Regions from separate parts of the Homo sapiens genome. Here region 1 is linked to region 2. A link means that fine-mapping ties the variant in region 2 to the expression of a gene that starts in the linked region. Tissue or cell type: monocytes after LPS. Region 2 holds a variant in brackets; the other region holds the start of a gene. All regions are shown on one strand. Distances are from middle to middle.

Region 1 (5,150 bases), 200 kb after region 2:
AGTGTGAGACTCCATCTCAAAAAAAACAAACGAAAGAAAAGCATCTAAAACAAAAAAAGACAAAGTACTTATGTTAGAGCAGAGTAACTGTAGAGAAAATGCAAAACGAACAAACCTTAGCTCCAAATATGCTACAGGCATCACAAATAACACCATACTACACAGATATGGGGACTTTTGGATTATTTTAACTTCACTTGAATTCCTAATGTCTATCCACTTCTCCAGCCAACCATCCCCTGTACTTTAAGCAAGAAAGATGACCAATATGCTGACACTGCAGGCCCAAGTTTTTCAATTGTATTTTTTCCAGTCATCCATTGCTAAAACAAATGAAATACAAGAAGTGTAGTATATCTATAAGAAACAAATTCAAACCAAGTCAGATGCCAACCAAAATAATCCTTCATTGGAAAGCAAACCATGCACTTGTCCTTAAAATGTTTAAGCCTTGGCATTCACAATTTGTAGAAGTTTCACACCTTTCTGAAGGAGAGAGAGGTGAGCTAATCAGTGTGGGTCCTAGAAATAGTTCCTCAGAATGTTTCTAGACATTCTAGAGATGTCTAGAAACACCCAGAGATGTAAACAACAATCAGCTGGAAGCAGATATACCCAGAATAAGGAGCTTCCAGGATTTCCCTCTCCGTGTGAAAGCAATCAACTCCTATTTTTAATCTCCCTCTGACGCAAGCATCCAGGCAAACCTCTCTCTAATCAAAGCTAGATGATTTGTTACTTTCAAATAGCAGTTTTAAAAGTCAGATTTTAATGCAAGTCAACACAGATTTAATGTCAATGCTTTAGTCTAGGAGAAGAATGAGTTATCTTGAGAGACAGAATTGATGGTAATGCAAAAAGCTCCTCGATTTTCGAAGCGGGGGGAACTTAAGGTATAACTGGGCAGACAAACCCAGAGGATTCCTATCTTCTTAAACACTTCACAGAAACAAACTAATCTAATACCAGTGATTCCCGGGACTGGCCGAAGAATAACTTGAAAATTGGATTAATTGAAAAATAACATGTTGATAGTTAAGTACAGGTAAAAACAGCACTTTCCTACACATTGGGTTATTAAAAGGGTTATTAAAAATAATTATTTCCTTCAGTGCCCAACAGGATTTATAACATTCAACTCTATTTTTGGTTTTTCATTGTAAAGGATTCTCAGAGGGGAGGGAACCATAATGCCTTAATAAGTAAACAATAAGTAATGTTTAATAAGCTCCTGGGAGTTGGTCACATTCTTCTTTTCCAATCAAGAGTTTTTGATCCACTTGAAAAATGCTAGTGAAGAGGGCCTTCCACAAGGAACTCAGTAAGAATATGCAACTCTGGAGACACAATCAAAGTACTGGTATCAAGCTTGGAGAAAATGCTGCTTTTGTCTCAGGGGCAGCCAGTGATAAAAACAGGAACTTTACACAGAACTGATCACAACTGCCCCAGAAGCCTGATCACATGCCCACAACGGAGCACTGTGTTTCTCTCATTGTTGTACAAGGAGTTCTCTAATAACAGTGGCTTGATTTATCCCATTTTTTTTTTTTAATTCTGAAAATAAATCGAACCCTCCCTGTCCCAATCCATTGTCAAAAGAAAGAATGCCAGCCAGGATTTGCAAGTAAACGGTAGCCTCCTCTCCTTCCTTCATCAAAGACTCCAAAAGGTGACCAGATGCGGAAAATTCGGCCCGAATAACAGGCACCAGGAAAAAAAAAAACTTCTTATGACAAAGGTGGTCTAAAAGCAGCACCGTGTGTCTCTCTGGGTTAATGCCATTGCTTCTTATCTTCCTAGGACCCTAAATGGCTCACCCGCTTGTGTCTCACTCCTGTCACTGGGGAGGCATCGCGCATTGTTAAAGGAAAGAGAAGAAATGATGCTGCGGATTTCCCATGTGTCTCTTTTTGAAAGGGGGAAGGGGGGGCTGGAACAAGGCGTGGAGCCCTCCACGAAAAGGGGAGAGGAAAGGAGAAAGCTGTCAGCCACCCTCCTCGCAGCCCTACCCCTCACCCCACCTGGGCCAGACGCCTGGGCAGAAGCGGGAGGGCGCAGCTTTGTCTCGGGTTTTGGGGGGCAGGAAGCGCAGAAGCAGTGTGGGCCCGGGAGGACCTTTCCACAAGCCCTTACTTAGTCCCCTCCATGGGAAAACAATGAAAGCCACAGGAAACCACTTAATGGGGTGGGAGAGGAGGGAAAACGGTCGTGGAGCGCCAGGCCAGGTTCTCTACACCCTCGTCCCCCTCGCCGCACGGCCGCCAGAGCGCGCGGCGGGGACCTGTCTCCCAAGTCGCCGCGATCCGCAGGGCCCCGGGCGCCCTCTCCCCGGCCCGGCTCCTACCCTCCGAGAGCTCCAGCTCCAGCTCCGCCAGCTGCGCCCGCACTTCAGGCGGCAGCGCCGCCACCGCGGCCGGCGACGGCTCCAGGCCTCGTTCCGCCATCCCAGCTCCGCCAGCCACACTCCGGAAGACAAGAGAGGGGGCCGAAGGAGGGACGGACAGACACGGGCCCACACCCGGCTACAGGATCCGGCTCCGGCCGCCGAGCACCACCAGCACCGCCGCCGCCGCCGCCGCCGCCATGAGCAAAGGTCACGTGAGCGCGACGGCCCCCGCCCCCCGGCCAGGAGGACGCACCGCCTCTCCAGCCCAGTCAGGCTGAAGACGCATATGCTTACGGCGCCCTCTACTGGGAAGCTACCAGAACGACGGGCCCAAGCCCACCACTCGAATTTCCCTGCGCGAAATGGGCTCATGGTATGGACTGTCGGCTTTACCACAGTAGTGTGGACACATAGCATTTACCTTTCACTCTCGAGCAAGTTTTTAGGGGTCCCAGGCCTTACTTTTTCCAATACTAGACTTAGCAATGTATGTCTATCGTGTCCTTTACTCCATTTTCCCTGATTAATACCTGCCCATTTATAAAAACCTAATCACAGGCCACCTCCTTCGCTGTGGCTCCTGGTCCTATCTGCCAGGAGCTCTGTTTCCGTTTCAGTTTTAGCTTTTAAAAAGACAGGCGCGGTGGCTCTCGCCTGTAATCCTAGCACTTTGGGAGGCTGAGGCTGGTGGATCACCTGAGGTTAAGAGTACCAGGCTAGCCGACCGGGCGCGGTGGCTCACGCCTGTAATCCCAGCACTTTGGGAGGCCGAGACGGGTGGATCACGAAGTCAGGAGATCGAGACCATCCTGGCTGACACGGTGAAACCCCGTCTCTACTAAAAGTACAAAAAATTAGCCGGGCGTGGTGGCGGGCGCCTGTAGTCCCAGCTACTCGGGAGGCTGAGGCAGGAGAATGGCGTGAACCCGGGAGGCGGAGCTTGCAGTGAGCCAAGATCACGCCACTGCACTCCAGCCTGAGCGTGAGCGCGAGACTCCGACTCAAAAAAAAAAAAAAAAGAGTACTAGGCCAGCCTGGCCAACATGGTGAAACCCCGTCTCCAATAAAAATACAAAAATTAGCCGGGCGTGGTGGCGGATGCCTGTACTCCTAGCTACTCAAGAGGCTGAGGCAGGAGAATCACTTGAACCCAGGAGGCAGAGGTTACAGTAAGCTGAGATCGCGTCATTGCACTCCAGCCCGGGCAAGAGAGCAAACACTCCGTCTAAAGAAAAGAAAAAGACAATAGAGAGCAGGTCCACTTCTTTCTTTCTATACTTCTAACTACTTACAAGGAGGGAACTTACTTTAACTCATCCTCCTCACTCTGTGGCCTAATAGGTGTTCCAAAAACATTAATTTTAATTTAATATGAAGAGGGTCCAAGGCTAGGTGCAGTGGCTCACACCTATGATCCCAGCACTTTGGGAGGCCAAGGTGGGCGGATCACCTGAGGTCAAGAGTTCGAGACCAGCCTGGCCAACATGGCGAAACCCCGTCTCTACTAAAAACACAAAAATTAGCCGGGAGTAGTGGCACATGCCTGTAATCCCAGCTACCTGGGGGAGCTGAGGTAGGAACGTCGCTTGAACCCGGGAGGCCAAGGTTACAGTGAGCTGAGAACATGGCGGCTGCGCTCCAGCCTGGGCAACGCAGTGAAACTGTTTCAAAAAAAAAAAAAAAAGTCAAGGCCGGGCGTGGTCGCTCACATCTGTAATCCCAGCACTTTGGGAGGCCGAGGCAGGCAGATCACCTGAGGTCAGGAGTTGGAGATCAGCCTGACCAGTATGGTGAAACCCCGCGTCTACTAAAAATACAAAAATTAGCTGGGCATGGTGGCATGTGCCTGTAATCCCAGCTACTCGGGAGGCTGAGACAGGAGAATCGCTTGAACCCGGGAAGTGGAGGTTGCGGTAAGCCCAGATTGCACCACTGCATTCCAGCCTGGGCAACAAGAGCGAAACTCCGTCTCAAAAAAAAAAAAAAAAAAAAAGGAAAAACTGGATGAAGCATACACAGGAATTATCTGTACTATCTTTGCAACTTTTCAGTAAATTTAAAACCATTCTAAAGTAAAACATTTATTTAAAATTATAGAAGCTTAGAACAAACTTGAGAGATCCTCCTACCTCAGCCTCTCAAAGTGCTGGGATTACAGGCATAAGCCACCTCATCCAGCCTTTACTGCATTCTTCCACCAAATTATTCTACCTTTTTGCTAGATTATTCCTTATATTCTCTTTATTTCTAATTGTTTATTCTTTACCTTAATCTTTTTGTCTAGATATTATTGTTGTACCAGCCTTTTTAATTACTACTTGCTGACTTTTTTTAGTCTTTTATTTTCAACTTTTGTCTGTGACTCTGGTTGTAACAAATTAATTAAATCCATTTAAGTTCATTTAATATAATTACTGATATATTAGGACTTATTTCTTCATTCTTGTTAAATGTTTTCTGTTTATCAATCTCTGTCTTTGCTTTCTTCCCCCCCTTTTTCTCCTATTGTTGAATTAGTAAAGTGTTAGATAGTACTTCTTTGTTCTTCTGGTTTGGAAGGTACAGATTATACTGCTATTCTTTCTGTGACTATTTTAAAAGTTTAACATTAAATTTTTCTCCGAGGCCAGGTGTGGTGGCTCATGCTTTTGGAGAAAAACTTTTAAAAATTAACAAACAAAAATATACTATGTTTATACTGTGTCACCGTTTTTTTTTTTTTTAGACAGAGTCTCGCTCTGTCACCCAGGCTAGAGTGCAG
Region 2 (5,150 bases):
TTTAATGTCCTGATTGTCTCTAATCTTGTACCTATAAATACTGTGTTCTGAATAACAAACTTTTTTGTTTTTTTTTTGTTTGTTTTTTGAAATGAAGTCTCGCTCTGTTGCCCAGGCTGGAGCATAGTGGCGTGATCTCCACCTCCTGGGTTTAAGCGATTCTCCTGCCTCAGCCTCCCAAGTAGCTGGAATTACAGGTACATGCTACCACACCCAGCTAATTTTTGTATTTTTAGTAGACACAGAATTTGCCATGTTGGCCAGGCTGGTCTCGAACTCCTGACCTCAGGTGATCCGCCCACCTCGGCCTCCCAAAGTGCTGGGATTACAGGCATGAGCCACCACACCCGGCCCAAACTGTTTTCACTCAAAGGATCACTATTACACATCACATAGTGCCAATCATTTACATGAAAATGCTCTGTATACTATGTATTATAGTTTGTCTTTGCTACTGAAGATAACTTTTTCCAGCACTCTTCTAACTTATTGCAACATGTTAATCAAATCAGAGCGAGATAGTGAGAATAAGTGAAAAGAGTTCTTAAAATAAAAAAAGTCTCATCATGTCTTCTGATCTCAGCGGGGAAAAAAAGAAAATAAAAAATGTCTTAGTTTGAAGGAGTCAAATGAACTTGGGTAGTGGAAATGATAAACACTAACTCATTTTATGACATCCTTACAAGAACTGCTTTAAATATAAGTGAAGTGGTTCTGTAACACTCTTGGACTAATCAGAATTTGTTCTGTTCTGTGAATTAAAGTCCAAATATTTGGATCAAATGTAACAAAATCAACATGAAAGCATCACTTACCGGCCCTACAAACCCCAGCAATCCTGATCGGATGAATGGCACATCCCCAACAGGAGAGCCTGCAGAATTCACTGGAATTACCTAAGAGACAAAATGAAGTAAGTGAAAAACTTTGCTTTTTCTTAGAAAGTATATGTGATTTTTAAAAAGTTTTATTAAAATACATGCTCAGTGAAAAAATAATGTAATAGTGAATCCAGTAATTCCATCCCTTTAGAGATAAGAAATAATTACAATTTATTGTTTACCTCTCTAGACTTTTAAGAAGATACATATATAAATATATATATAAAACATATAAAAAATATGTATATATAAATAAATGTGCTGAGTTTTTTTTTTTTTCAAACAGATATTATACTTTTTGCAACTTGCTTTTCCACGAAATATATCTCAGATACCCTTCCAAGTTAGTAAGAGTTGACTTAGCCCACTCAGCCACTCCATGGGGGACAGGACAGCATAGTCGTTGGTGTCAATTCAATTTCTGGCTCTGCCACTTACTAGTAACATAGACTTTAGGCAAGTGCCTGGATTTTTCTGAGCCCTGTTTTGCAGCCACTTAATGGAGTACTCTGTGCCTCTCACAGGCTTGGAGTAAAGATTAAGGAATGCAAAAAGATTTGCAGAAACAAGTACGGTATCTGACCCAGAATCAGTATTCAGGAAATTGTAGCTATTAGAATGTAACCAGTCTTTTATTACAGCTGGATAGGCCATTATAATTTTTCACTATTATAAAGGTGCTTTAATGAATATTGCTGTATTCATTTATGCATCTGTACAAAAGGCACGAGTCTTTTCAATTTTAATTGGCTGGCCTATAAAACTGTCGTATCCATTTACACTCATTAATATCATACTAGAATGTCTGGTTCTTCCCATGTCCTGGCTAGTACTATGTGCTATCCATTTTTCCAAACTTTGCCAATCTGGTACCGAAAAATATATCCTATTGTTAATTTATTAAAAAAAAAATCTTTTTTTTTTTTTAAAATGAGATATAGTCTCACTTTGTTGCCCAGGCTGGAGTGCAATGGTGCAATCATAATTCACTGCAGCCTCAAAATCCTAGGCTCAAACAATCCTCCCACCTCAGCCTCCCAAGGATCTGGGAGTACAGGTGCGGGTTACCACGCCTAGCTAATTTTTAATTCGTTTGTAGAGATGGGTCTCGCTACATTGTCCAGAGGTATTGAACTCCTAACCTCAAACAATTCTCCTGCCTTGGCTTCCCAAAGTGTTGGGATTACAGGAGTGAGCCACCATACTCAGACTTAAAAAAATTTTTTTAAATTCAAGACAGTAGACATTAATCCCATTATTGCTTTAATTGCATTTTATAAGTAATATGTCTGAATTTCTTTTCCTTCGTTTGCCGAGCATTTGTATTTCTTTTGTGAGTAGCCTATTCATGTCTCTTACCTATTTTTTCTACCTGATAGCTGCTCCCCACCCCTCCTTTTTTTTTTTTTTTTTTTTTTTT[A/TTTTA]AGAGATGAGGTCTCACTATGTTGCCCAGGCTGGAATGCAGTGGCTAGTCACAGGCGTAATAATGGTTCAGTACAGCCTTGAACTCCTCGGCCCATGTGATCCCCCGTGTCACACTCCAGAATAGCTGGGACTACAGGTGTGAACCACAGCACCCGGATAATTTTTTTTTTAAGACAGAGTTTTTTGCTCTGTTGCTCAGGCTGGAGTGCAATGGCACAATCTCGACTCACTGCAACCTCCGCCTCCCGGGTTCCAGAGATTCTCCTGCCTCAGCCTCCTGAGTAGCTGGGATTACAGGCACCTGCCACCACACCCGGCTAAGTTTTGTATTTTCAGTACACAAGGTTTCACCATGTTGGCCAGGCTGGTCTTGAACTCTTTTTTTTTTGAGACAGAGTCTCGCTCTGTCGCCCAGGCTGGAGTGCAGTGGCACAATCTTGGCTCACTGCAAGTTTCACCTCCCGGGTTCAAGCCGTTCTCCTGTGTCAGCCTCCCGAGTAGCTGGGACTACAGGCGCCCGCCACCATGCCTGGCTAATTTTTTGTATTTTTAGTAGAGACGGGGCTTCACCATTCACAGGATGGTCTCGATCTCCTGACCTCGTGATCCGCCCGCCTCGGCCTCCCAAAGTGCTGGGATTACAGGTGTGAGCCATCGTGCCCAGCTGGTCTTGAACTCTTGACCTCAGGTGATCCACCCACCTCAGCCTCTCAAAGTGCGAGGATCACAGGCATGAGCAACTGCTCCCAGCCTCATCTGTATAATTCTTAAAATTTATTTTTTATATAAAATAATAATTATAACAACACTAAATGCTTATCAGTACCAGGAACAGGTTTACTTGCTTTACAGTTAATCCTCAAATTAATCCTATAGAAACAGCATTAGTATTTCCATTTTACAGATGAAGTGAGTTTCACTTGCCTCAAATAGCTAGCACATGGGAGTGATGGAAAATCAACTGTTGTCATACATGTCACAAAAGTTTTTCTCCCTGGTAGCATTATCTATAAAATATTTTTATTTTCTGACTAGTCAATACTAGATCTTGGCCTGGTGTGGTGGCTCATGCCTGTAATCCCAGCACTTTGGGACGCCGAGGAGGGTGGATCACCTGAGGTCAGGAGTTCAAGACCAGCCTGGCCAACACGGTGAAACCCCATCTCTACTAAAAATACAAAAAAACTAGCCAGGCGTGGTGGCAGGCACCTGTAATCCCAGCTACTTGGGAGGCTAAGGCAGGAGAATTGTTTGAACCCGGGAGGCAGAGGTTGCAGTGAGCCGAGATTGCACCACTGCACTCCGCCTGGGCGACAGAGCAAGACCCCACCTAAAAAACAACAACAACAACAAAAAAACAAACCACAAAACAAATTTAAAACCTAGATCTTTTCTCCAGTGAAATGTTAACTACATTGGTAAACTCTCTCAGGATTTAAATTTAAGAAGCCAGTAAGAAAAATACTGGGAACTTTAATTTGGAAAACCCAGATACTAGCTTTGTCCTTTTCTGGTACAATTTTTATTCTACTTCACTATCACTAAATTTATAATGCAGATTTTAAATTTTCTTCAACACTATGGACCTAGCAGTTTGGTATTAAGTCTGAGAATTCTGGCTAGTGAACTGCCTCATTGGAAAGGTAATGAAATAAAATATCAGTATCTTCAAACACTGCTTGAGGCTCTTGTTTTTAGTAAGGAAAAGTCAATGAAGAAAAATTACAGGCGCAACGGCTCATGCCTGTAATCTTTGCACTTTGGGAGGCCAAGATGAGAGGATCACCTGAGGCCAGGAGTTGAAGGCTGCAGTGAGCTATGATTGAGCCACCGTATTCCAGCCTGGGTGACAGAAATAAATAGGGTGAGATTTAAATTAGTTAAATGTATATACACTCAAGGGAGGTAAATCAATCACCTAGGAAAGTAAACCAAGAGACTGGCAGTAAACACATGCTTGAAGAGCTTATGAATGCCCACTCCTGGCATGGTGAATTGCACACAGCTTTTGAAGGCTGGGCAAGAGCACAGTAGTAATAGTTATGAGAAAGACATTTAGTAAGTGATATAAGCCATTTTAGGTTGGGTAAACACAAAGATAAGGTTCAGCCCAGGAGCTCTTAGCCCTTTTCAGGTACCACATCATGGAGAGCATAGATATGGTATCACAGAGATGATACTTTCTCTGAAGTTACATCTGTTAGTATGTAATCACATGCACTGATTTCAAGTGGGACAGTAGATGCCTGTAACCTTCCATCCTGGGAATCACTAGTCTAGATTATAGAAAAAGAAGCTCAAAGAACTGAAAAATAGGAGTGCTTATATAAGCTCTGTCTTGTGTGAAGAGGGATGTGGCTGCCACCTGAATTTCTCTCGTCCCTAAAATGTATCCTGAGACAGGTTAATTCCAATTATTAAATGTAGACAATTAACCGCCCCTGTTCTGACTTCCAGGTTCACTAGGCAAAGTTTCCATTACAACCTGGCTTCGCATGCAGAAGTGCCTGCAGGAAAACCGTGTGCGAGTCTAGCTAGAATGTGCTGGCCCCACAAGAACGTGAGCTCCACAAGGAGTTTTGTTTTGTTTTCTGATGCACCCCAAGCATCTGGAACATTGCCAGACACATTAAAGGTGCTCAAAAAATATTTGTCTGACTGAAAGACTGAATAATATGAGCAACCTGACTCCTGTGAAAGGACAGTCTTCATTTTTAATTAGTAACTGAGCATAATTGGAGTTTACTCTCGAAATTAAATTTGAATTTACAAAGCTCAAACCATGGCAAATTCACCACAGTGAATTTTTGTGAGGCCTCTTACCCTTTTTTTTTTTGGTTTTGTTGTG

Evidence for each region. PIP is the estimated chance that this variant, and not a neighbour inherited with it, causes the effect.
Region 1: DIP2B starts here. The variant in region 2 is fine-mapped to the expression of DIP2B in monocytes after LPS (Fairfax 2014, PIP 0.91).

The regions. Positions count from the first base shown.
Region 1 is chr12:50,502,438-50,507,587 of GRCh38, reverse strand. It overlaps DIP2B (disco interacting protein 2 homolog B), which reads right to left and starts at 2,603. Exons shown (of 38, transcript NM_173602.3): 1 at 2,348-2,603. The coding sequence starts at 2,447. RefSeq lists a silencer at 2,191-2,300.
Region 2 is chr12:50,699,886-50,705,035 of GRCh38, reverse strand. DIP2B (disco interacting protein 2 homolog B) reads right to left here. Exons shown (of 38, transcript NM_173602.3): 20 at 816-896. Among named protein-coding and RNA genes, the nearest start is that of ATF1, 62 kb to the left of the region's middle. The variant A/TTTTA (reference allele first, on the strand shown) is at 2,302.